Regions from separate parts of the Homo sapiens genome. Here regions 1, 3 and 4 are each linked to region 2. Evidence: fine-mapped expression QTL. A gene starts in region 2. Each other region holds a variant in brackets. All regions are shown on one strand. Distances are between the middles of the regions. Region 1 overlaps SEC61A2 (SEC61 translocon subunit alpha 2). Region 2 holds the start of DHTKD1 (dehydrogenase E1 and transketolase domain containing 1). Region 3 holds the start of LOC124902579 (small nucleolar RNA U13). Region 4 overlaps DHTKD1 (dehydrogenase E1 and transketolase domain containing 1).

Evidence for each region. PIP is the estimated chance that this variant, and not a neighbour inherited with it, causes the effect. A credible set is the group of variants that fine-mapping cannot tell apart.
Region 1: its variant is the best candidate, but not a certain one, in a credible set for the expression of DHTKD1 in whole blood (TOPMed, PIP 0.87).
Region 3: its variant is the best candidate, but not a certain one, in a credible set for the expression of DHTKD1 in whole blood (INTERVAL, PIP 0.61).
Region 4: its variant is the best candidate, but not a certain one, in a credible set for the expression of DHTKD1 in monocytes (BLUEPRINT, PIP 0.68).

The regions. Positions count from the first base shown.
Region 1 is chr10:12,154,635-12,159,634 of GRCh38, forward strand. SEC61A2 (SEC61 translocon subunit alpha 2) reads left to right here. Exons shown (of 12, transcript NM_018144.4): 7 at 1,144-1,297; 8 at 2,273-2,433; 9 at 3,274-3,471. Among named protein-coding and RNA genes, the nearest start is that of MIR548AK, 26 kb to the left of the region's middle. The variant C/T (reference allele first, on the strand shown) is at 2,855.
Region 2 is chr10:12,067,076-12,072,075 of GRCh38, forward strand. It overlaps DHTKD1 (dehydrogenase E1 and transketolase domain containing 1), which reads left to right and starts at 1,879. Exons shown (of 17, transcript NM_018706.7): 1 at 1,879-2,112. The coding sequence starts at 1,959. RefSeq lists silencers at 1,905-1,954, 2,055-2,214.
Region 3 is chr10:12,140,822-12,145,821 of GRCh38, forward strand. It overlaps SEC61A2 (SEC61 translocon subunit alpha 2), which reads left to right. Exons shown (of 12, transcript NM_018144.4): 4 at 2,296-2,374. LOC124902579 (small nucleolar RNA U13) reads left to right here and starts at 4,842; the gene lies at 4,842-4,945. The variant T/A (reference allele first, on the strand shown) is at 2,780.
Region 4 is chr10:12,117,475-12,125,414 of GRCh38, forward strand. It overlaps DHTKD1 (dehydrogenase E1 and transketolase domain containing 1), which reads left to right. Exons shown (of 17, transcript NM_018706.7): 14 at 199-281; 15 at 1,275-1,444; 16 at 2,708-2,793; 17 at 3,313-5,747. The coding sequence ends at 3,414. Among named protein-coding and RNA genes, the nearest start is that of SEC61A2, 8.2 kb to the right of the region's middle. RefSeq lists enhancers at 4,165-4,304, 4,365-4,414, 5,155-5,244. The variant G/A (reference allele first, on the strand shown) is at 5,988.

The sequences.
Region 1 (5,000 bases), 88 kb after region 2:
AATCGTACCCTTTCTCCTGCCCATTGAAACTCAGACTAAAAGCCTGTAAATAGACAAGTTAGGCTCTGTCCAACTACTGAAATGGCAGTTAAGGAGAAAAACAACACTGTGTAAGGTAAGCATGCCTAAAATGGTCTCATGTGGTTACTTTGGTCGCTCTTCCAGCAGGTGATATTGGATAAAGTGAGTACAAAATGAGGGTGGGCGGCTTGAGAGCTGGGAGGAATGGAAGTGACTTCCTCACTTCTGCCGGAGGGTGTCTTTAAAGTGGGGACATGTGTGAGGTTGGGGGCATGGAAGCATATTTTCTTCCTGTCTTGATTAGGTTATTTGAGTGCAGGGAAGGGGTCATATGACTGAGGAGGTCACTTGAAGGGCTAGGGACTGTTTTTAATTAATGCATACTTTTACAGGAATGTCTTCTCCAAGAAGCAAGTTCAGAATTTTCAATATCCCATAAATTAAAGTCAGTATGCTTTCATTTTTAAAAACAATATGAGCTTAACCTTAACCGTCTTCAAATTTACATTCAATCTTTGTCACTATGTGTATAGAATGCATTTTTACATTGCTGCTCGAGTACGTATTTGAGTACATATTTGTGTTCTAGTTTTTTATTCTGTACACATTTTATAGAGTATACATATATATAATATATATAATGCTTTTTTCAAAGGATCAACACAGCCCTTAGACTTATCCTTTGATGGCAGTGTACATTTCCATCTTGCTATTATACCAGAATTCATCTGACTTTTTACTTCCTTGGAGGTATTTGGGATGTTTTCAGTTTCTTGCTGTCATAAATTCTAGAATACTGTGATCATTTTTTGTTTCAGTGTGCTTTTCAAACAGGCTTTATTTAAACATTGCAAAAGAAACTATTCAGATAAGTGTAAATAGACTTTAAAAGTTGAAATGTCTGCTTTATAATACAACAGTATTTCCAGTCCTCTTACTGTTCTAGATTGGCCTGAGTAAATGAAAGCAGGCCAAAAGATGCAGTTGGTCATCACAGTGAGATTGCAACGATCAGGCCTTAATATTCAAAACGCCCCTAGCTTGGAAATAGCCAATGGTGTTCCTCTCCCCCTTTCTTGAGTTTGTTCTTGCTTCCGCTTACTTGCATTTCTTTCCCCACAGTTGTTTGTTGCTGGTTTGATTGTGCTGCTGTTAGATGAGCTGCTACAGAAGGGTTACGGCTTGGGGTCTGGGATTTCCCTCTTTATTGCCACCAACATCTGTGAGACCATTGTCTGGAAGGCCTTTAGTCCCACTACCATTAACACTGGCAGAGGTACATCGCACAGCGACTGCAACTGCACGCGTTTTGCTGGATGTGTGCTGGGAACAAACCCATCGTGTCGCAGTACATGCCTAGAGCCGTTCTGGTTTGCTCTCCTAGGGGATAAGGAATGCGAATTCTTCAAAACTTAATGAGCAGAGATTTGTGGAGTAAGCAATACTACCTCAGAGAGAATAGTATCAAAATTTTAGCCTCTGCTTATTTAAAATTTCAGTGGTTGCAAACAGATTTTCAAAATTTCTTTTGTTAACCTTGCTTAAGGCATTGCTGCAGAAGTCATTTATTTGACTGATTTCAGCATCCGTAGGGGGATAAAAAGGTAGTGGATTTTAGATTTTTCAAATGAAAAGACTGTTGTTCATTGAATCCACCTGGAGCACTCCTACTCTGCTGCTCTTCTAATTGGCTTTGTAATAGCACCAAAGTTTTGAAATATTTCATTCTCTCTTTCCCCTTCCTCATCTCCACTTCTAACAGATACTGTCCTAAGTGGTTAATACCTAAACTCTGATCCCAGCCTTAAGAAAACTGTAATGATGATTAATGTTCTTGGTGCGGTAAACTTCGAGGCAGGCTCGATAGAGTGACATCTGTCTCTTATTCTGACATCTCTGCTCTGCTTCGCTGCTGTTTATTTTTCCTAAAAACACTCTCTCCCTTCCCTGAAGTAGAGGAGAGGCAAATCTCTATGAATGAAATTTTGCTTTGGTAAATTTTACGTTGTATGTTTTCTTCAAGAATAGTCTCTTGAGAAAACTTCGGATTTATGCTATAAAAACATAGATTTGCCTCAATGATCTAAATATTTGTAGAACCTGCTCACATGGCTATATCATAAAGCAAACATTGGCGAATTCTTTTGACCCATATTTTCTGCTGTATACTGGACTTTCACGGTTAGTTGTTTGAGCTTTGGGACAGCTTTGGACGATGAGTCCACAGGTCGTGTCTGTCTTGATTTTACAGGTACTGAGTTTGAGGGTGCAGTCATAGCTCTGTTCCATTTGTTGGCCACCAGGACGGACAAAGTCCGAGCTTTACGGGAGGCTTTTTATCGGCAGAACTTACCCAATCTCATGAACCTCATTGCTACAGTTTTTGTGTTTGCTGTTGTTATATATTTCCAAGTAAGTATAACCTTTTCACCAAAGTAAGTGGGATGTAGATTTTTATTTTGCTCTTAAAGAGAATGCCATCTGACATGCTGTTGTTTAACAAGTCAGGGTTTAAGATCAAGGGAAATAAAATTTTGCAATTAGAGTCTCCAGACTCTGATTTTAAGGTGTGAAATATTGGAGTCTCTGTACTTTTTTTGTTTTTTGTTTTGACCCATCAGCAGGAAGCAGACTCTCGACAGTTTAAAAGGCAGAACGTCTTTGTTAGCATTGTCTTTTCTTTTCTTTTTTTTTCCTGAGACGGAGTTTTGCTCTTGTTGCCCAGGCTGGAGTGCAGTGGCGCGATCTTAGCTCACTCTAACCTCCTCTTCCCGAGTTCAAGTGATTCTCCTGCCTCAGCTTCCTGAGTAGCTGAGATGACAGGCACGTGCCA[C/T]CACGCCCGGCTAATTTTTTTTTTTTTTTTTTTGAGATGGAGTCTTGCTCTGTCGCCAGGCTGGAGTGCAATGGCGCAATCCCGGCTAACTGCAACCTCCGCCTCCTGGGTTCAAGCGATTCTCCTGTCTCAGCCTCCTGAGTAGCTGGGACTACAGGTGCATATCACCACACCCAGCTAATTTTTTGTATTTTAGTAGAGATGAGATTTCACCACGTTGGCCAGGATGGTCTCGATCTCCTGACCTCGTGATCTGCCCGCCTCGGCCTCCCAAAGTGTTGGGATTACAGGCCTGAGCCCCTGTGCCCGGCCGGCATTGTCTTTTCATCCCCCGCACTGTTCTTTGTTTTCCCTCTCTGGTCTCTGTTCTTTTCTTAATGTGTCTGGCTCCCCCACTTACTCTCCGTTTCCTTTTTTAGGGATTTCGCGTTGATCTGCCCATTAAGTCGGCCCGTTACCGAGGACAGTACAGCAGCTACCCCATCAAACTCTTCTACACCTCCAACATCCCCATCATCCTCCAGTCGGCCCTGGTGTCCAACCTGTATGTTATTTCCCAGATGCTGTCTGTTCGATTTAGTGGCAACTTTTTAGTAAATTTACTAGGACAGTGGGCCGTGAGTATTATGTTTATTTACATTATTTATAGTTTATTATAATTTGCATTTCATGGTTGTATTTTTAATGGAATGAGGTCGACATTGGAGCATTTGCTGTATTTTCAGATTCACTTACCTATATAGCAGAGTTTAGTACTTATCTGGAAGAACTGGTAAGTGTTGCAGAAGTAAGATTGCCCAAGCGCTTTTTATTATTTTGCTCTCTAGGAAGCACTTTCACATCTCATTTGAATGACCTTTTAAGCTAAAATTGTGGTTGATTTCATAAAAGTAATTTCCTATTTTGTCATCTTATTCCAGTATTGTCTACAATAATGCTTTCTAAAAGATGCTATTTGCTGGCTGGGTGCGGTGGCTCACTCCTGTAATCCCAGGACTTTGGGAGGCTGAGGTGGGTGGATCACCTGAGGTCAGGAGTTCGAGACCAGCCTGGCCACATGGTGAAACCCCGTCTCCACTAAAAATACAAAAATTAGCCAGGTGTGGTGGCAGGTGCTTGTAGTCCCAACCATTCAGGAGGTCAAGTCAGGAGAATTGCTGGAACCCAGGAGATGGAGGTTGCTGTGAGCTGAGATCACGCCACTGCACTCCAGCCTGGGCGACAGAACGAGACTCCGTCTCCAAAAAATAAAAACAAAAAATGCTATTTGCTGCTGCTAACATGTGAGATACTGGACTCATCCTAACCTTTCCTATCTCCCACCCTGCCTCCAGGCCTCCTCCATTTTTCATGGTCTGAATGGCAATAAGCCAGCTTGTGATGAGCTGGGCTAGAGATAGGCATGCTATTAACTAGACGGTAGAGACAGCGGTGCTGCTAGTAATATAATCCTATACATTCTCATATACATCCCCCATCATAATTTTTTTTTCTTTTTTTTTTTTTTGAGACGGAGTCTCGCTGTGTCGCCCAGGCTGGAGTGCAGTGGTACGATCTCGGCTCACTGCAAGCTCCGCCTCCCGGGTTCATGCCATTCTCCTGCCTCAGCCTCCCAAGTAGCTGGGACTACAGGCGCCCGCCACCACGCCCAGCTAATTTTTTGTATTTTTAGTAGAGACGGGGTTTAACTGTGTTAGCCAGGATGGTCTCGATCTCCTGACCTTGTGATCTGCCCGACTCAGCCTCCCAAATTGCTGGGATTACAGGCGTGAGCCACCACACTCGGCCCATAATTTTTTCTAAAGCCATCTAGCCACGCTGTTATTGAAGCGTGAGTTACTGTGGGACTGAATTTTCATTGGTTTAAATTCTGTCACCTAACAAAGGGGTATTTTCCCTCTTAAAATTATAGATTTTAGCCAGGCGTGTTGGCTCTCATCTGTAATCCCAGCACTTTGGGAGAACAAGGAGAGAGGATAGCTTGAAGGCCAGGAGTTGGAGACCTGTCTGGGCAACATAGCGAGACCCCATCTCTACAAAAAAACTTAAAAACTAGCCGGGCACAGTGTTACGTGCCTGTAGTCCTAGCTACTTGGGAGGCTGAGTTGGGAGGATTGCTTGAGCCCAGGAGTTTGAAGGTACAGTG
Region 2 (5,000 bases):
GAGATGGAGGTTGCAGTGAGCCGAGATTGCCCTACTGCATTCCAGCCTGGGCGACAGAGCGAGACTCCGTCTCAAAAAAAAAAAAAAAAAAAAAAAAGGAAAAAAAAGACAAGCCCTTGCAAAACCAGGTCCAAACTAGCAAGATGGGGAGGCCACCAAAGTGTGGACCTAAGGGGTCCCAGCTACAGTAGCTGTGCTGGATGACGCTCCTGTGCTTGCAGGGGGCACTTACATGTGCCTACATTATATAATCTATCATCCTGTGTGCTGAGTTCTATCTACAGCTAGACTGGGAACTAAGGGCAGAAACTGTGCCTTATTAATCTTTGTAACCCAGCAGAGTGCTTTATGAGTGTACTGGTTGAATGAGTAAGAAGGAGGATGTCTTGGGCTTGTATGTATAATATTCCTAGGAGTTTGGGGTATAGCTGCACAGCTTACTGGAACGAAGGATGACTAACCAGGTAAGGATGCAGACTCTCTCTCCTACCATACTGGCAAAGTTAAAAGTAAGCCACAGAAAAAAAATCATTTGGGAAACTCACTCAGAGACAGACCAACTAATCGTTCATGTCCAGTTTCTTTTGACTCTTATCCCTTTCTTCCCTGCTCCCTTTACCCTATTTCCTTCTTTCTCTCTTAATGTTTTTTGTTTGTTTGTGAGACAGAGTCTCGCTCTGTCGCCCAGGCTGGAGTGCAGTGGGCACGATCTTGGCTCACTGCAACCTCTGCCTCCAGGGTTTAAGCGATTCTTCTGCCTCAGCCTCCCGAGTAGCTGGGACTACAGGCACCCGCCACCACACTCGGCTAATTTTTGTATTTTTAGTAGAGACGGGGTTTCACCATAGTAGCCATGATGGTCTCGAACTCCTGACTTCGTGATCCGCCCTCCTTGGCCTCCCAGAGGGCCTCCCAGAGTGTTGGGATTACAGGCATGAGCCACTGCAGCCTGTTTTGTTTTTTTTTTTTTGTTCGTTTGTTTGTTTGTTTTTGTTCTGTTTTTTTTGAGACGGAGTTTCGCTCTTGTTGCCCAGGCTGGAGTGCAATGGCGCCATCTCAACTCACCGCAACCTCCACCTCCCGGGTTCCAGCGATTTTCCTGTCTCAGCCTCCCGAGTAGCTGGGACCACAGGCACCCACCACTACGCCTGGCTAATTTTGTATTTTTAGTAGAGACGAGGTTTCTCCACGTTGGTAAGACTGGTCTCGAACCCCCGACCTCAGGTGATCCGCCCGCCTCGGCCTCCCAAAGTGCTGGGATTACAGGCGTGAACCACCGCGCCCGACCTAATTTTTGTATTTTTAGTAGAGATGGGTTTTCGCCATGTTGGACAGGTTGGTCTCAAACTCCTGACCTCAGATGATCCTCCCGCTGTGGCCCCCCAAAGTGTTAGGATTACAGGCGTGAGCCACCGCGCCCGGCCTCTGTTAATGTTTCTTAAGAAAACAAAAAAATTAGGGGTATTGATTTTGTAGCTGCGCTAAGTAACCTTTGCTTTTTGCGTCCCTTGGTCTCAGTCCTAGCCATTTCCTATCCACCCTGTGGCTAATTTGTCCTTTCTGTAACAGACACCCTAGACTGTGTCTATGCGGTTGGGCAGAGGCGTGATGGGTAAACACTCCTGGCGGGAGACTACAGGCGCTGCAGCTACATCCTGTTTCGTACTGGGAGCAGGTGCCGCCCCGCGGAACACTTACTTGCCCCGCCCTGCGGTGGAGCAGGGCGGTCTCAGCCGCCGGAACCGCCCTGGAAGCCCGCCCCAATCCTGGGCGTCGCTTCGCTGTGAGTGCCGCTGCCACGGATTGGCTTCCAGGGTCCGGCCCGTCGGCCAATCAGGCGCGGGGGCGTTGTCTGGGGGCGGGGCTCCGGCCGCCTCTGACGAGTCCCGGATTTACCAGGGCCGGTGGGATCCCCTCGGGCTCCCGCCTTAGCATGCTGGCCGGGACATCTGGTGAACATGGCCTCTGCTACTGCGGCAGCAGCACGACGGGGCCTCGGCCGGGCTCTCCCTCTCTTCTGGCGTGGCTACCAGACCGAGCGGGGCGTTTACGGCTACCGGCCGAGGAAGCCCGAGAGCCGCGAGCCCCAGGGCGCCCTGGAGCGCCCCCCAGGTCGGGGATGGGGCCCGGGCGGTGGGAGCGGGGGCTGGGACGCAGAAGCCTCCCCTGGCCGATTTGCGGTGGGGTGTCGGGGTCGGGGAACCGGCTGCCGGCCTGAACGCGCGGCCGGTGGGGAGGAGGGGGAGGTGAGGGGAGCAGAGGGTAGGTGTGGGTGCTCAGTGTTGGGGTCATCCCCCGTCCATCCTCTGTAACTGAGGATCTTTGAGGTCCACGCTTGGGTGGTCTTCCCATCTTGCTGGTCCGGACCTGGTTTCGGAAGGGCTTTTCTTTCCTTTGTTGGAAACGTGTGAGAAACTCTTTTTTTCTTTCTCTTTTTGTTTCCTTTTTTTTTTTTTTTTTTTTTTGAGACGGAGTCTCGCTCTGTGGCCCAGGCTGGAGTGCAGTGCTGCGACCACAGCTCCCTGCAGCCTCGAACTCCTGGGCTCAGGCTATCCTTCCACCTCAGCGTCCCGAGTAGCTGGGGACACAGAGGGATGACCACGCCCAGCTTTTTTTTTTTTTTTTTTTTTTTTTTCATTTTTAGTAGAGATGGGGTCCCACCATGTTGCCCAGGCTGGTCTTGAACTCTTGAGCTCAAGCTGATCCTGCAGCCTCGGCCTCCCAATGTGTTGGGATTACAGGCTGAGCCACTGCACCCAGCCTAGAAAACCAGCTCTTTAATGAGGCGGAGCTGTGGGAGAAGTAAAGTTTTAAGGTCTCCCAAGGATACATTTCCAGGACCATCTCTGAGGCTTCTTTTATGTGAGCAGGTGGGGGGGTCCAAGACTGCATTGCTTGGGAGAAGTGGGCAGTTAGTTCCAGTCTTGGAAGACAGCATGATATTTATTATGTATTTGTCTCCTTGTAGCTAGTCTGTTACTTTAATTTCAGAGTTTAACTCTTAACTCTGCTGAATTTGGAACTATGTGCTGGTGGGGTTTCTTTCTTTTCCTTTTAGCCACTCTATTGACACCTTGATATGTGCTGGTGGTTTTAATGAATTAACAGTCATGAATATCAGCTTTTGGAACTTCTGTTGCATGCTCATTTGCGAGACTAATTTTGAGTATTTGGTTTACGCTCCAAAATTATTGTATCATTATTTATCCTCACGGAGTAGAAGATAAGTACAGATTGCTTATTAGAGGAAAATCATTTGGCATCTTTGATCTGATCATTAGATTAATGTTGAAGATCCCCTTCGGCATCTGGGCACCTGACCTTGGAATGTTCCATCAATCACACACTAGAACTTCAATATTTTGCTCTTCACTTCGGAGGGCATTTAAAATAAACCTCATATCTCTGTCTCTCTCTCTTTTTTTAATCCTAAAATGGAGTCTGGCTTTGTCGCCCAGGCTGGAGTGCAGTGGCACGATCTTGGCTCACTGCAACCTCTGTCTTCTGGGTTCAAGCGATTGTCCTGCCCCAGTGTTCCGAGTAGCTGGGATTACAGGCACCTGCCACCATGCCCAGCTAATTTTTGTATTTTTAGTAGAGATGGGGTTTCACCATGTTGGCCAGGCTGGTCTTGAACTCCCGACCTGAAGTGATCCACTGGCCTTGGCCTCCTAAAGTGCTGGGATTACAGGCATGAGCCACCGTGCCTGGCCAAGAGGGAACCTCCTTTTTGCAGAGCCGAATTCCCCTTCCTGTCTACTTGCTCATTAGGGAGCTCCAACTTGACCTCATCTTTCTTCTTGGGCCTTCCTGAAAGTGACAAGATACAATGAACATACGCTCCTGAGCTACAGGCTTCAAGGGCATGTAGTCTGCCTCAGTCCTGTCCTACAGGACAAAAACCAAATGTTTTGTCCTGTAGCATAACACTGCCCATCAGCTTTCTAGGTGGAAATACCTGTGTCCTTGGTACCCATTGCCTGGCTGCTAATCCAATGCCATATATATTTTTAGGCTCTGTTAGGGCAGCAACCCACCTCTGGTACCAAATTCTGTATTAGATTGGAAGAGTTCAGGTGCTGTGATATACAAAGAGAAGGGATATCTTCTTTCCTTCCCCTTACGGTCATGACCCAGAAGTTGCATACATTGCTGCTACGTTCCCATTGTCCAAAACTTAGTCACATGGCCACCAGGTTATGGGGAAGGCTGGGAGGTGGCTCTTTGTTCTGGGTGGCCATATACTGGGCTCTCTATTACTATCAAAGAGAGGGTTCAGAATGGAAGTTAGGAATCGTAGCAGTCTCTGCCACAGAGGTATAGTAATCTGAGATGAGCAATCCACCTTTATCTTTTTCACCTCATATTTCACATCAAATCTTTTTAGTTTTTATTTTTTAAATTTTATTTATTAGGCCGGGCGCGGTGGCTCATGCCTGTAATCCCTGCACTTTGGGAGGCCGAGGTGGGCGGATCACCAGGTCAGGAGTTCAAAACTAGCCTGGCCAACATGGTGAAACCTCGTCTCTAGCAAAAATACAAAAATTAGCTGGGTGTGGTGCAGACGTGGGGCCAGGCACAGTGACTCACGCCTGTAATCCCCGCACTTTGGGAGGCCGAGACAGACAGATCACTTGAGACAGGGTCTTGCCATGTTGCCCAGGCTGGTCTCGAACTCCTGTCCTCAGGTGAAATGCTTGCCTCGGCCCCCTAAAGTGTTGGGATTATAGGCGCGAGCCACCGTGTCCAGCCCCAAATAATTTATACTTCCTAAGGAATGAAAAGAGGGTTCTATATACGCAATTTATTTGTGACATATAGTACATTTGCATTTTGTATGTGCAAACGTAACATTAATTATCAAGTATCTTTATATGTTAGGCAACATATTAAACTATTACCGTGTTTTATTTTTATTTTTTGAGATGAGATCTTTCTATGTCACCTAGTCTGGAGTGCAGTGGTGCAGTCACAGCTCACTTCAGCGTGCGCCGGGTTCA
Region 3 (5,000 bases), 74 kb after region 2:
GATTTCCTGACCTCATGATCCACCCATCTCGACCTCCCAAAGTGCTGGGATTACAGGTGTGAGCCACCACTCCCAGCTGTTTTTGTTTTGTTTTTTGAGATGGAGTCTTGTTTTGTCGCCCAGGCTGGAGTTCAGTGGCACGATGTCTGCTCACTGCAACCTCTGCCTCCCAGGTTCAAGCGATTCTCCTACCTCCGCCTCCTGAGTAGCTGGGATTACAGGCACGAGCCGCCACTCCCTGCTAATTTTTGTATTTTTAGTAGAGATGGGGTTTCACCATGTCGGCCAGGCTGGTCTTGAACTCCTAGCCTCAAGTGATGTGCCCACGTTGGACTCCCAAGATACTGGTGTTACAGGCCTGAGCCATCGTGCCTGGCCCTCACCTCTCACTTTAAATGAAGAGTGTCTACAGCTGCCAGGTGCACATAAAATATCCATGTTTCATGCTTTACCAGTTTTATTACCCAGCTGATAAATTCAGACTTTCAGGGAGGTTTAGGTTGACCAGGTGAGTTGTTTAAAATTGCTGCCAGCATCTTTTGTAACTTTCTTAAAAATCAGTTTCATATAGAGAAGGTTTTTGAAATGTCTTTGTCTAATCCCCACATGGTTAAGGAGGGGTTAAGGCCAAGTGCTGTATCCTAAATATGGGTTATATAATAGGAAGCAATCTGAACTTAAGTTGTTTTTTGTTGTTGTTTTAATGAAAAGTTAATGTCCTCATTATGGAAAATTTGATACATATGAAAAGAATACAGAAGAAAAAGTCAACCATAATCCCACCATCTACAGATAATTGCTGTTTAGGATTTAAAAAGATATCTCCTCCTAGTTTGATTTTCTGTGCATCTATTTACAGTGTCATAGTTTATATATACACTTTCGTACTTCGTTTTTATACTAGGGCTTCTTAACAGTCGCACTCCTGAATTTGAGGTAGGATGATTCCTTGCCCCAGGGGTCTGTCCTGTGTATTTCAGGATGTTCAGCAGCACTCTGGCCTCTACTAGCCATCACCCCCTGTTCTGTGAAAGGGCCATATATGCAAAATGACCCGCAAACACTGAAGGAGCTGCGAAACCAATGAATGAGGGAGACAAATCCAGTTTGTCAGTAGAGGGTGATTTTACAGACAGAAGCATAGTTTGGGGCAGCAGTAAGACAGGGAAAGGCCTGCATTCTTACTCCCAGACCCAGGGCTAATCTATCATAGGGAAGGGGTGTATGTGCTTTGTGCAGGACAGTTGAAGGCAGCTTTCCAGAACATGCAAGAATGCTGTGTGTCACAGCCTGTTATTTGTGTAATAGCATCAACGTTGCTTGGATCTCAGGGCAGGATTTATGGCGAGTACATGTTCTTACACTAAGGACTGTAAATAAAGCAGGAATCAGGAGGTATCCCTGAGACCAGGGTTGAGCAGAAGTCAACATGGTAGATTAGCATCCAAGATGGAGTCACTTTGGTCTCCACCTTGGCCCCTAGTTGTGGCAACCAAAAATGTCTCTAGATATTGCCAAATGTCTTGGGTGGGGGCTAAAATCACCCCTAGTTTAGAACTGCTATTTTATATTTAGTTTTATGACATAAGTACTTCTTCCATGTTATTACAGATTGAGTAAGCATAATTTTTAGTGGCCATGTAATATTCCATTGTGGATATCATCTTCAGTCTTACATTGAGAAGAGTGACCTTGGCTGTCTTTAGTATATAGAGCTTTGCAAAATCATTCTACGACCAGGCAGGTATAATATTCCATAATCTACTGGTGGGAGTGTTTTTTAAATTGTGGTAAAAGTATAGAAAATATGCCATCTTCATCATTTTTAGATGTGCAGTTTAGTAACATTAGGAATGTTCACATTGTTGTACCACCACACTCCATAAGCGATGTATTTACTAGTGAATGCACCAAGTGATGATTTGTTGTTTTTATTTTTATTTTCACTTTCTGGTTCTTTTAATTATTTTTTTTATTAACCCTTATCTATGTGATGGAATGTTTTTCTTTTTATTTTCTTTTTAATAAACAGCTTTACCTTGAAGATATGCTTGTTTTTGTTGAAGAACATAAGAATAGTTTTTAAAAAAGTATTGCAAGCAGTAAGTGAATACCTTGTAAATTAAGTGCACACTTTATACTTTTTTTTTTTGAGACAGAGTCTCCTGTCACCCAGGCTGGAGTGCAGTGGCGTGATCTCAGCTCACTGCAGCCTTTGCCTCCTGGGTTCAAGCGATTCTTATGCCTCAGCCTTATATAATACAGTTTCATAAACTATTTTGTGTACTATTTTAGATCCCACTGTTTGGAATCATGTCATCAGATTCTGCAGATCCTTTCTACTGGATGAGAGTTATTCTGGCTTCCAATAGAGGTATGCGTGTCTTTTCTGTCTCCACACTCCTACTCACAGCAAACAGATGGAAACATGTGGATTAGCAATGAGTTTTCAATGTCTACAGGGAGGGGGAGGATATCATTGCCTAGAAAAGCCTAGTATGTAGATAATGACAACACCGTGTGATTAATGTAATCATAGAGAAATCTGTTCTTGGGTTTTCATGGACTGGAAAACCCTGATCTTCAGTGTCAAAGAAGGTGATGTCCAGATAACATTGGAATTGGAGTCCAGGTGGGGCGCCGTGGCTCACCCCTGTAATCCCAGCACTTTGGGAGGCCAAGGTGGGCAGATCACCTGAGGTCAGGAGTTTGAGACCAGCCTGGCCAACATGGTGAAACCCCGTCTCTACTAAAAATAGAAAAATTAGCCAGGTGTGGG[T/A]ATGCACCTGTAATCCCAGCTACTCAGGAGGCTGAGGTAAGAGAATCGCTTGAACCTGGGAGATGGAGGTTGCAGTGAACTAAGATCGCACCACTGCAATCCAGCCTGGGTAACAGAGTAAGACTCTGCCTCCAAAAAAAAAGGGAGTCCAGTGTGTGAGCCAATCGGGGAGCTCAGCTGGAGCTGAGCCTGAAGCCTCAAGCAGCATTGTTCATCTGGGAAATTGTGGCTGAGGATGCTGGACAGTGAGAGTAGCAAGGGGTACAACCAGTCGTGAGGTTTCTTACATTTAGGAACAGTGGTTGCCTCTTTTTTGGAAACACTTTTTTCAGGCGATCCTCCCACTTCAGCCTCCTGAGTAGCTGGGACTACTGGTGCGTGCCACAATGCCTGGCTAATTTTTGTAGTTTTGTAGAGGTGAGGTTTTGCCATGTTGCCTAGGCTGGTCTTGAACTCCTGGGTTCATGCCATCCTCCCTCAAAGTGCTGGGATTACAGGTGTGAGCCACTGCACCCAGCCTGGACATACTTTAAATCGATGGCAGATTTTTTTTTGATGTTTTTAGGTTATAAAGGTAATATTGATTTATTATTTTAAAAATGCACTAGCAATTTATATACAGATTTATATGAAGCTGAAAAGAAAAGTGTCACTTCTGAGGGGAGCTCTGGAGGATTTGGTAGATTGGTGACTATCAATTGAGGCCTTTTCTTTGCACATACATTCACTTACATATATCTATATACTTCTTATAACTGAAAAGTAAGATGTCCTGTATATACTATTCTGCTACTTTGTTTACTTAATATCTTACATGAGCTATTAATGGCCATGTTATTATTCCATTATAAGGATACGCTGTGATTTATTTGATCATTCATTCAACAAATACTTACTGAGTTCATATTGTGTGTCAGCCTTTGTGCAAGGTGCCGAGATTAGAGCAGTGAACAAGACAATGTCCCAGTTGTCATGGAGTTGATATTTGCTGTTTGGGGAGGTACCTGGGGTGGGGAAGGTGCTCTAGGAAGGTGATCTTTGAAGACAGCTGCAGGAAGTGAGAGAGGAGGCCACATGAAGACCTGAGGGAGGCATATTCTAGGGAAGAGCCAGTGCAAAGGCCCTGAGGTGAGCCTGTGCTTGGTGTGTTCAAAGATCATTGAGGAGGGGCCAGGCGCAGGGGCTCATGCCTGTGATCCCAACACTTTGGGAGGCTGAAGCGGGAAGATCACTTGAGGTCAGGAGTCCAGACCAGCCTAGGCAACAAAGTGAGACCCCATCTCTACTAAAATCACAAAAATTAGCCAGGTGTGGTCGTGTGTACTGTGGTCCCAGCTACTTGGGAGGCTGAGGTGGGAGGATGGCTTGAGCCTGGGAGGAAGAGATTGCAGTGAGCCGAGATCACGCCACTGCACTCTAGCCGGGGCGACACAACCAGACCCTGTCTCAAAAAAAAAAGGAACATTGAGGAGGTGAGTGTGGGGTGGAAGAAATGAAAGAAGAGGGAGGAGTGATGGGACCTGATGTTGCAGATGTATCTAAGTCAGATCATGAAGGGCTTGGAGACCGTTGGATGGAGCACATTTTAAGGAAGATGGGAAACTTCTGCAGGCCACTAGGTTCCTTTCTTGTCATATATTACGTTTTTTTCCCCCCGATTTTATATCATTATAAAGAATGCTACAATGAAGGCTATCACACCGTTCTGTAACTTTTTGATAGAATGAATTTCTAGAAGTTCAACTGTTGGGTCACAAGATAGGCATACTGAAATTTTTGATAGAGAAAGCTAAATTATCTTCCAAAACAGTTGTTTGATTTTACACTCTCAGCGACAGTATATGAGAATGACCATTTCTCTTTCAACAGTGGATATTATTAGTATTTTAGTCTTTGTTAGTCAGAGAGGTAAAAGCTGGCATCAGTTATTTAATTTTGATTTCTTTATAGATTGGTGAGTTTGAACATTGTTTTCTGTTTTTATGGAACATTTGTATTTCTTCTATAAGTGGAGTTTTATTAGTGTGTTAGATTCCTTTTGTTGTAAGTAATAGGAAACTAGATGCTTTCGTAGTCCGTAGATGTGATGATTGGATCTTCACGCTCGTGTGTGAGATGTGCCTCTCTCCAGCCTTGTTAGGATGTTGGAACATTACCCATCTGACATGAAAAGAAAAAAGAAAAAACATTGTTTTAAATAAAGGAGAAAAATTAAGGAATA
Region 4 (7,940 bases), 52 kb after region 2:
GTAACCTCAGAAACATAGTTTTACCCTGAAGTATACAGAACTGATATTTTTTGGCAAGGCATTGCGTCTATTAGGACATGGGTCTCCTTGCAGTGCTAGGCTAGAACTTTGGTACTCGTGTTTGATAGCGGCCCTTGTAAGTGACAGCATCACCTCTTTCTGTTGCTTGCTGGATGTGTGGCCTCTTCTCCCTCGTAGGCAGCCGTGTCAACTCTTCAAGAAATGGCACCAGGAACAACATTTAACCCGGTCATTGGTGATTCATCTGTGGATCCAAAAAAGTAAGATATGTATCTCTGTTTTCATATTCTGTGGCAGAATTTTAATTAATGGGAAAAGTAGTTCACATTAAGAGATCACAGGTGATGCAGATCTCCCCTCTCCTATTTTTATTTATTTATTTATTTATTTATTTATTTATTTATTTATTTTTGAGACTGAGTCTGGCTCTATTGCCCAGGCTGGAGGGCAGTGGTGCAATCTCAGCTCTATGCAACCTCCGCCTCCCGGATTCAAGTGATTCTTGTGCTTCAGCCTCCCAAGTAGCTGGGATTACAGGTGCCCGCCACCACACCCTGCTAATTTTTTTATTTTTAGTAGAGATGGGGTTTCACCATGTTGGCCAGGCTGGTCTCGAACTCCTGACCTCAGGTTATCCACCCACCTCAGCCTCTGAAAGTGCTGGGATTGCAGGCGTGAGCCACCATGCCTGGCCTCCTCTATCCTAAGTCCTTTAAGTCAGTGGAGTATGAGTTAAGTGTGGGTGGGAAAGTGGACTTTGTAGGCGCATGTTGCTGAAGAAGGGTCCCCAGGAATAGCCTGTGACTGAACTCGGCTGCAGAGACCCCCACCACCTTGTTCATGAGGACTTTAAATCTGCACTGTCTCCCGTTTCTTCTGACATAATTCTCTTTTTTTTTTTTTTTGAGGTTGAGTCTTGCTCTGTCGCCCAGGCTGGAGTGCAGTGGCACGATCTTGGCTCACTGCAAGCTCCGCCTCCCGGGTTCACGCCATTCTCCTGCCTTAGCCTCCCGAGTAGCTGGGACTACAGGTGCCCGCCAGTACGCCCGGCTAATTTTTTGTATTTTTAGTAGAGACAGGGTTTCACCGTGTTAGCCAGGATGGTCTTGATTTCCTGACCTCGTGATCCGCCCGCCTTGGCCTCCCAAAGTGCTGAGATTACAGGCGTGAGCTACTGCACCTGGCCTCTTCTGACGTAATTCTTACTTTAAAAAATTTCTCCCCCACCCTATTGTTCCTTTTCTGTCCAACAGGGTTAAGACCCTCGTGTTCTGCTCCGGCAAACATTTCTACTCCCTGGTGAAACAAAGAGAATCTCTGGGGGCCAAGAAGCATGACTTTGCCATCATCCGAGTAGAGGAACTCTGCCCCTTCCCGTTGGATTCTTTACAGCAAGAGATGAGCAAATACAAACATGTTAAAGGTAAGAGGTTGTTCTCATTTGGGTTTTGATGTTCAGATACCCAAAACCCATTTCAGCTCTTTTAAATGAAAAGATGTGGTGGGGGTTATTAGAAAATTGAATCTTGGGCCGGGCGCGGTGGCTCACACCTGTAATCCTGGCACTTTGGGAAGCTGAGGTGGGTGGATCACAAGGTCAGGAGATTGAGACCATCCTGGCTAACACGGTGAACCCCCGTCTCTACTAAAAGTACAAAAAATTAGCCGGGCGTGGTGGCGGGCGCCTGTAGTCCCAGCTCCTTGGGAGCCTGAGGCAGAAGAATTGCTTGAACCTGGGAGACGGAGGTTGCAGTGAGCCGAGATTGTGCCACTGCACTCCAGCCTGGGCACAAGACTCTGTGTCAAAAAAAGACACAAAAACATGAAAATTTGGTACAGGCGGGGCGCGGTGCCTCACGCCTGTAGTCCCAGCACTTTGGGAGGCCGAGGTGGGCGGATCACGAGGTCAGGAGATCAAGACCATCCTGGCTAACACAGTGAAACCCCGTCTCTACTGAAAATACAAAAAAATTAGCCGGGCGTGGTGGCGGGCGCCTGTAGTCCCAGCTACTTGGGAGGCTGACGCAGGAGAATGGCGTGAACCCGGGAGGCGGAGCTTGCAGTGAGCCGAGATTGCGCTACTGCACTCCAGCCTGGGCGACAGAGCGAGACTCCGTCTCAAAAAAAAAAAAAAAAAAAAGAAAGAAAATTTGGTACATATATGGGGCCTGTCCGAGGGTCATGGGGGAGGAGGGAGAGCATCAGGCAGAACAGCTAATGGATGCTGGGTTAATACCTAGGTGATGGATGATCTGAGGAGCAAACCTCCGTGGCACACATTTACCTGCATAACAAACCTGCACATCCTGCATGTGTACCCCAGAACTTAAAAAAGAAAAAAGAAAATGCATTGAATACACCTAAACTACAAAACACAGCTTAGCCTAGCCTGCCTTAAACATGCTCAGAACACTCACATTAGCTTATCGTTGGGCACAATCATTTAACACAAAATCTATTACATTTCATAATGAAGTGTTGAATATCTCAGATAATTTATCGAATACTGTACCAACAGTGAAAAACAGAACTGTTGTATGGGTACTTGAAGTACAGTTTCTAGTGAATGTGAATCCCTTTCACACCATCGTAAAGTTGAAAACTCCATCGTAGGTGGGATCATAGTAAATTGGGGACCGTCTGCATGTGTCTACTTGAGGTGCTGAAAGAATTTCTTCTCTCATAGATCATATTTGGAGTCAGGAGGAACCTCAGAACATGGGTCCGTGGTCGTTTGTTTCTCCAAGGTTTGAAAAGCAGCTGGCCTGCAAGGTAATCACACGTTTTCTCTGGTAGTGTTTTGTGTTTTGTGTGCATGTTGTTTTTCTTTTCTTTCTTTCTTTCTTTTTTTTTTTTGAGACAGAGTCTCACTCTGTTGCCCAGGCTGGAGTGCAGTGGCGCAATCTCAGCTCACTGCAAGCTCCGCCCCCCGGGTTCACGCCATTCTCCTGCCTCAGCCTCCCAAGTAGCTGGGACTACAGGCGCCCGCCACCACACCCAGCTAAATTTTTTTTGTATTTTTAGTAGAGACGGGGTTTCACCATGTTAGCCAGGATAGTCTCAATCTCCTGACCTCGTGATCCGCCCACCTCGGCCTCCCAAAGCGCTGGGATTACAGGCATTGAGGCACGGAGCCCTGTCCCTCTAATCTCTTCTGCGTAACTCATTATTTGAAAGAGGTGATTTATGGTTAAACAAGCTAAGAGAAATACATGCACTGTCTTGTTGGAACTAAGCAGAGCTCTGATCTAGTCAAAATGTCATTTTATTTCTTCTCTGCTGCACTTATAGCTCCGTCTGGTGGGCCGGCCCCCTTTGCCAGTACCCGCTGTAGGAATTGGCACAGTTCACTTGCACCAGCATGAAGATATCCTCGCCAAGACCTTCGCTTGATGATGACTTTTGAAGAAACACTATTTCTCTTTAAGAAAATGGCCATTAAGGCCGGGTGGGGTGGCACATGCCTGTAATCCCAGCACTTTGGGAGGCCAAGGCTGGTGGATCACCTGAGGTCAGGAGTTCGAGACCAGCCTGGCCAACACGGTGAAACCCCGCCTCTACTAAAAATACAAAAAATAGCCGGGTGTGGTGGTGGGCACCTGTGATCCCAGCTTCCTGGGAGGCTGAGGCAAGAGAATCGCTTGAATCTGGGAGGCGGAGGTTGCAGTGAGCCAGGATCACACCATTGCTGTCCAGCCTGGGTGACAGAGCAAGACTGCGTTTCAAAAAAAAAAAAAAAAAAACCCATTAAAAGAGGCCTCCTTCCTCCACTCTCTCAACCCCTCTGTTGGGTAACATGAAAAGACTGTATTCCTCTAAGATGTTGGGATTGATATACGTGATTTAATCTGCAATAGGTGGAATAACCAGGGGAACTGGTTATGAATATGTGAATGCAACCAGCAAATTTATCCTTGAAGGTGTGATGGTAGAAATAGGAAAACAACAAAAGAAAAACAATAACAAAAAAAGAAAGTGTGATGGCTGGGTGCAGTGGCTCACGCCTGTAATCCCAGCACTTTGGGAGGCTTAGGCGGCTGGATCACCTGAGGTCAGGAGTTCAAGACCAGCCTGGTCAACGTGGTGAAACGCCGTTTCTACTAAAAATATGAAAATTAGTTGGGTGTGGTGGCATGCGCTTGTAGTCTCAGCTACTCCGGAGGCTGAGGCAGGAGAATTGCTTGAACCTGGAAGGCAGAGGTTGCAGTGAGCCGAAATGGCGCCACTGTACTCCAACCTGGGCGACAGAGCAAGACTCCATCTCATAAATTAAAAGGAAAGTATGATAGTGTTATGGATTTTAGCTCTGAGTGAGCTGGAAAACTAGGTCATTATCTAGATGATTTCAGACTTGACCCTAATTGACCATATATGACCAGGAAACACTTCTGAGTTTACAGCTCCGTGGAGATGACCTCAACACTGCCTCTTGATTTGTTTGATGCATGTCACTTTCATTAATTTTCCCCCTCCTTTTTGAAAGTCCTGTGGCAGTACTAATATTTTCATTTTATGTAATCTCTGGTGCTGCTTTCCAGTCACTGTATGAAGTGTCTCCCCAACACTAGCAAATCTAGGTCCTACTAAATACAAATCTCTGGGTGGATGATCTTCTAGTACTGTATTTTTAAATTAAGGAGTTTTAGTTATAATGAAATTGATTTGTAGTCTGTTTTGCCGTAAACTTGTTTTTCTTTAAATTGTTCTTACAGTGATATCTTACTATTTTTAACTGTCTGGGGTTTCTGATATGGGGATTTCAGCCCCTGGTTAATCAGTCTTGTCCCTACAAGTCCCTGATGCAGTATGTTTATTTGTGATGTTTAAAGAACATTTCTTGGCTGGGCGCTGCGGCTTGCGCCTGTAATCTCAGCACTTTGGGAGGCTGAGATGGGTGGATCACCTGAGGTTGGGAGTTCGAGACCAGCCTGACAAAACATAGTGAAACCCCGTCTCTACTAAAAATACAAAAATTAGCTGGGCGTGGTGGTGGGTGTCTGTAATCCCAGCTATTCGGGAGGCTGAGGCAGGAGAATCGCTTGAACCCAGGAGGTGGAGGTTGCAGTGAGCTGAGATCCTGCCACTGCACTCCAGTCTGGGTGACAGAGCAAGACTCCATCTCAAAAAATAAATAAATAGAAAGAGAGAGAGAGGAAAAAAAAAGAAAAGAACACTTCTTTATTTGAGGGACTTTCCCAACACCAGGTGCTTGGGGATTTCTTAGAGATCACCAACCGACTCCCTCACTGTGAAATTAAACCAAGTACTGGAAACGTAACTAAACAGCGAACCATGTAGCTTCACCTGACTCAGTGCTGGGGGCCTCTACCATCTACTGTGCTTGTGTCATGATGCTTTTTCTCTGAAGTGGTGTGGGAAGTACCAGGGGACTGGCAGAAGCCCAGGCCCTCTCTACTTTTACCAGCAACTGATCATGTCTTTCAGAATCCATGTACATATAGGCTGTTCTAGCCACAGTGGTAGATTTATGATTCACATCCGAAAGTGTGCCTTAGTTATCAATTTAACATTTCTCTAGTATTCATATCCCTTTTCTTACCATATACCTCAGTGTATCCTTCCTGTGTCAAGCCTTATAAATCATGTAATTTAGTGCCACTCATGTAAATCAGTAAAATCACAAAGGTCTATTTAATGAAAACGATTTACCAATGTTGTTTTTTTTTAACAAGAAAAAAAATAAAAGCACATTGTCATTTTTTTTCCTCAGGACTCCTGGACTTCTTGAATTAAAAGATTTCAAAAGTCTAAGCACAAAAATGAGATGGAAGATTAGATCTTTGTAAAAGGTTAGTTTAGGCTGGGCGTGGTAGCTCACGCCTGTAATCACAGCACTGTGGGAGGTCAAGATGGGTGCATCACCTGAGGTCAGGCATTCGAGACTAGCCTGGCCAACATGGCTAAACCCCGTCTCTTACTAAAAATATAAAAATTAGCAGGGCATG[G/A]TGGTGCATGCCTGTAATCCCAGCTACTTGGGAGGCTGAGGCAGGAGAATCACTTGATCTCGGGAGGCGGAGGTTGCAGTGAGCCGAGATTGCACCACTGTACTCCAGCCTGGGTGACAGAGCGGGACTCTGTCTCAAAAAATAAAAGGTTACTTTAAATCTCTCCGAATTTCTTTTGAGACAGAGTCTCACTTTGTCGCCCAGGCTGGAGTGGTGCGATCTCAGCTCACTGCAACCTCCACCTCCTGGGTTCAAAAGATTTTCCTGCCTCAGCCTCCCGAGTAGCTGGGACTACAGGTACGTGCCACAGCCAGTTTTTTGTATTTTTAGCAGAGATGGCGTTTCACCATGTTAGCTAGGATGGCCTTGATCTCCTGACCTCATGATCCGCCCACCTTGGCCTCCCAAAGTGCTGGGTTTACAGGCGTGAGCCACTGTGACTGGTGGATCTCTCCAAATTTCTAATTTTACACCTCACAGTCTGTTCATGGTTTCTTTTTATGTCTTCTCTAACTCGAGTCATGAAATGTGTCTTCTGTTGGCTTAACCTTTCTACTCTCAATCACTACTGCAACATGGATCAGCATTTTACATTCCCTTGCAGGGAGGGACCATTTGAGGAATTCCAAATCAAATACTCATTACTTTTTTTCCCTTAAAAATTTAGTAGGCCAGGCGTGGTGGCTCATGCTTGTAATCCCGGCACTTTGGGAGGCTAAGGTGGGCAGATCACCTGAGGTCAGGAGTTTGAGACCAGTGTGGCCAACCTGGTGAAAGCCTGTTTCTACTAAAAAATACAAAGATCAGCCAGGCGTTGTTGCGCATGCTTGTAGTCCCAGCTACTTGAGAGGCTGAGGCAGGAAATCACTTGAACTACTCCAGCATGGGCAACAGAGCAAGACTCCATCTCAAAAAAAAAAAAAAAAAGTGTAAAAGGGATAGTATTTTTATTGTCAACCAAGGAATTATTAAAAAATAATAAAATTTCAAAGGTAATATAGTCAGTCTAAAGATGTCTAAGCTTCATAGTATTTTTCCCAAATAGCATGTGTATGCAAGACACAGAAAAGCTAAGCAAAATAGTTATTATTCTCACTAAAAAATTTTTTATTTTACTAAGAATAATTTGTCATTTCAGACAAAACTAACATTTTTCCATGGTTGCTACTATTTCTACTTCTTGAATACCCAATTTAAGGTTTAGTCCTCATTGAACATTAAAATGGCATAGATAGATATAAATAATAGATATAAATAAGATACAAGTATAAAGTTACTAAGGTTTTCTTTTTTTCTTTTGAGACCAAATCTCGCTCTGTGGCCCAGGCTGGAGGGCAGTGGTGCGATCCTGGCTCACTGCAACCTCCGCCTTTCTAGTTCAAGTGATTCTGTGTCAGCGTTAGGCCGCTTTGGCCTCTTAAAGTGCTGAGATTACAGGCGTGAGCCACCACACCTGGCCCTTTTACAAAATTGAAGAAATGAAAGGGTTACCCCGCCCAAAAAAAAAAAAAAAAAGATTACACTGGAAGGAAGTCACAGATTAAGGATCAAGACTGTTGAGTCTTTAGGTTCCAAAAGCTTCACCTACATTTTTCTTATATGTATTTGGATATTAAAGAAAATAAGTTACATATACACCATGGAATATTATTCAGCCATTTAAAAAAAATAAAATCTTGTCATTTGTAGCAACATGGATGGAACTGGAAGTCATCATGTTACGTGAAGTAAGTCAAGCACAGAAAGACAAAACTTGGATATTCTCACTCACATGGGAGCTTAAAAAGTGGATTTTGGCCAGGCGCGGTAGCTCATGCCTGTAATCCCAGCCCCTTGGGAGGCCAAGGCGGGTGGATCACCTGAGCTCAGGAGTTTGAGACCAGCCTGGCCAAGAGGGTGAAACCCTGTCTCTACTAAAAATACAAAAAATTAGCCGGGCGTGGTAGCGGATGC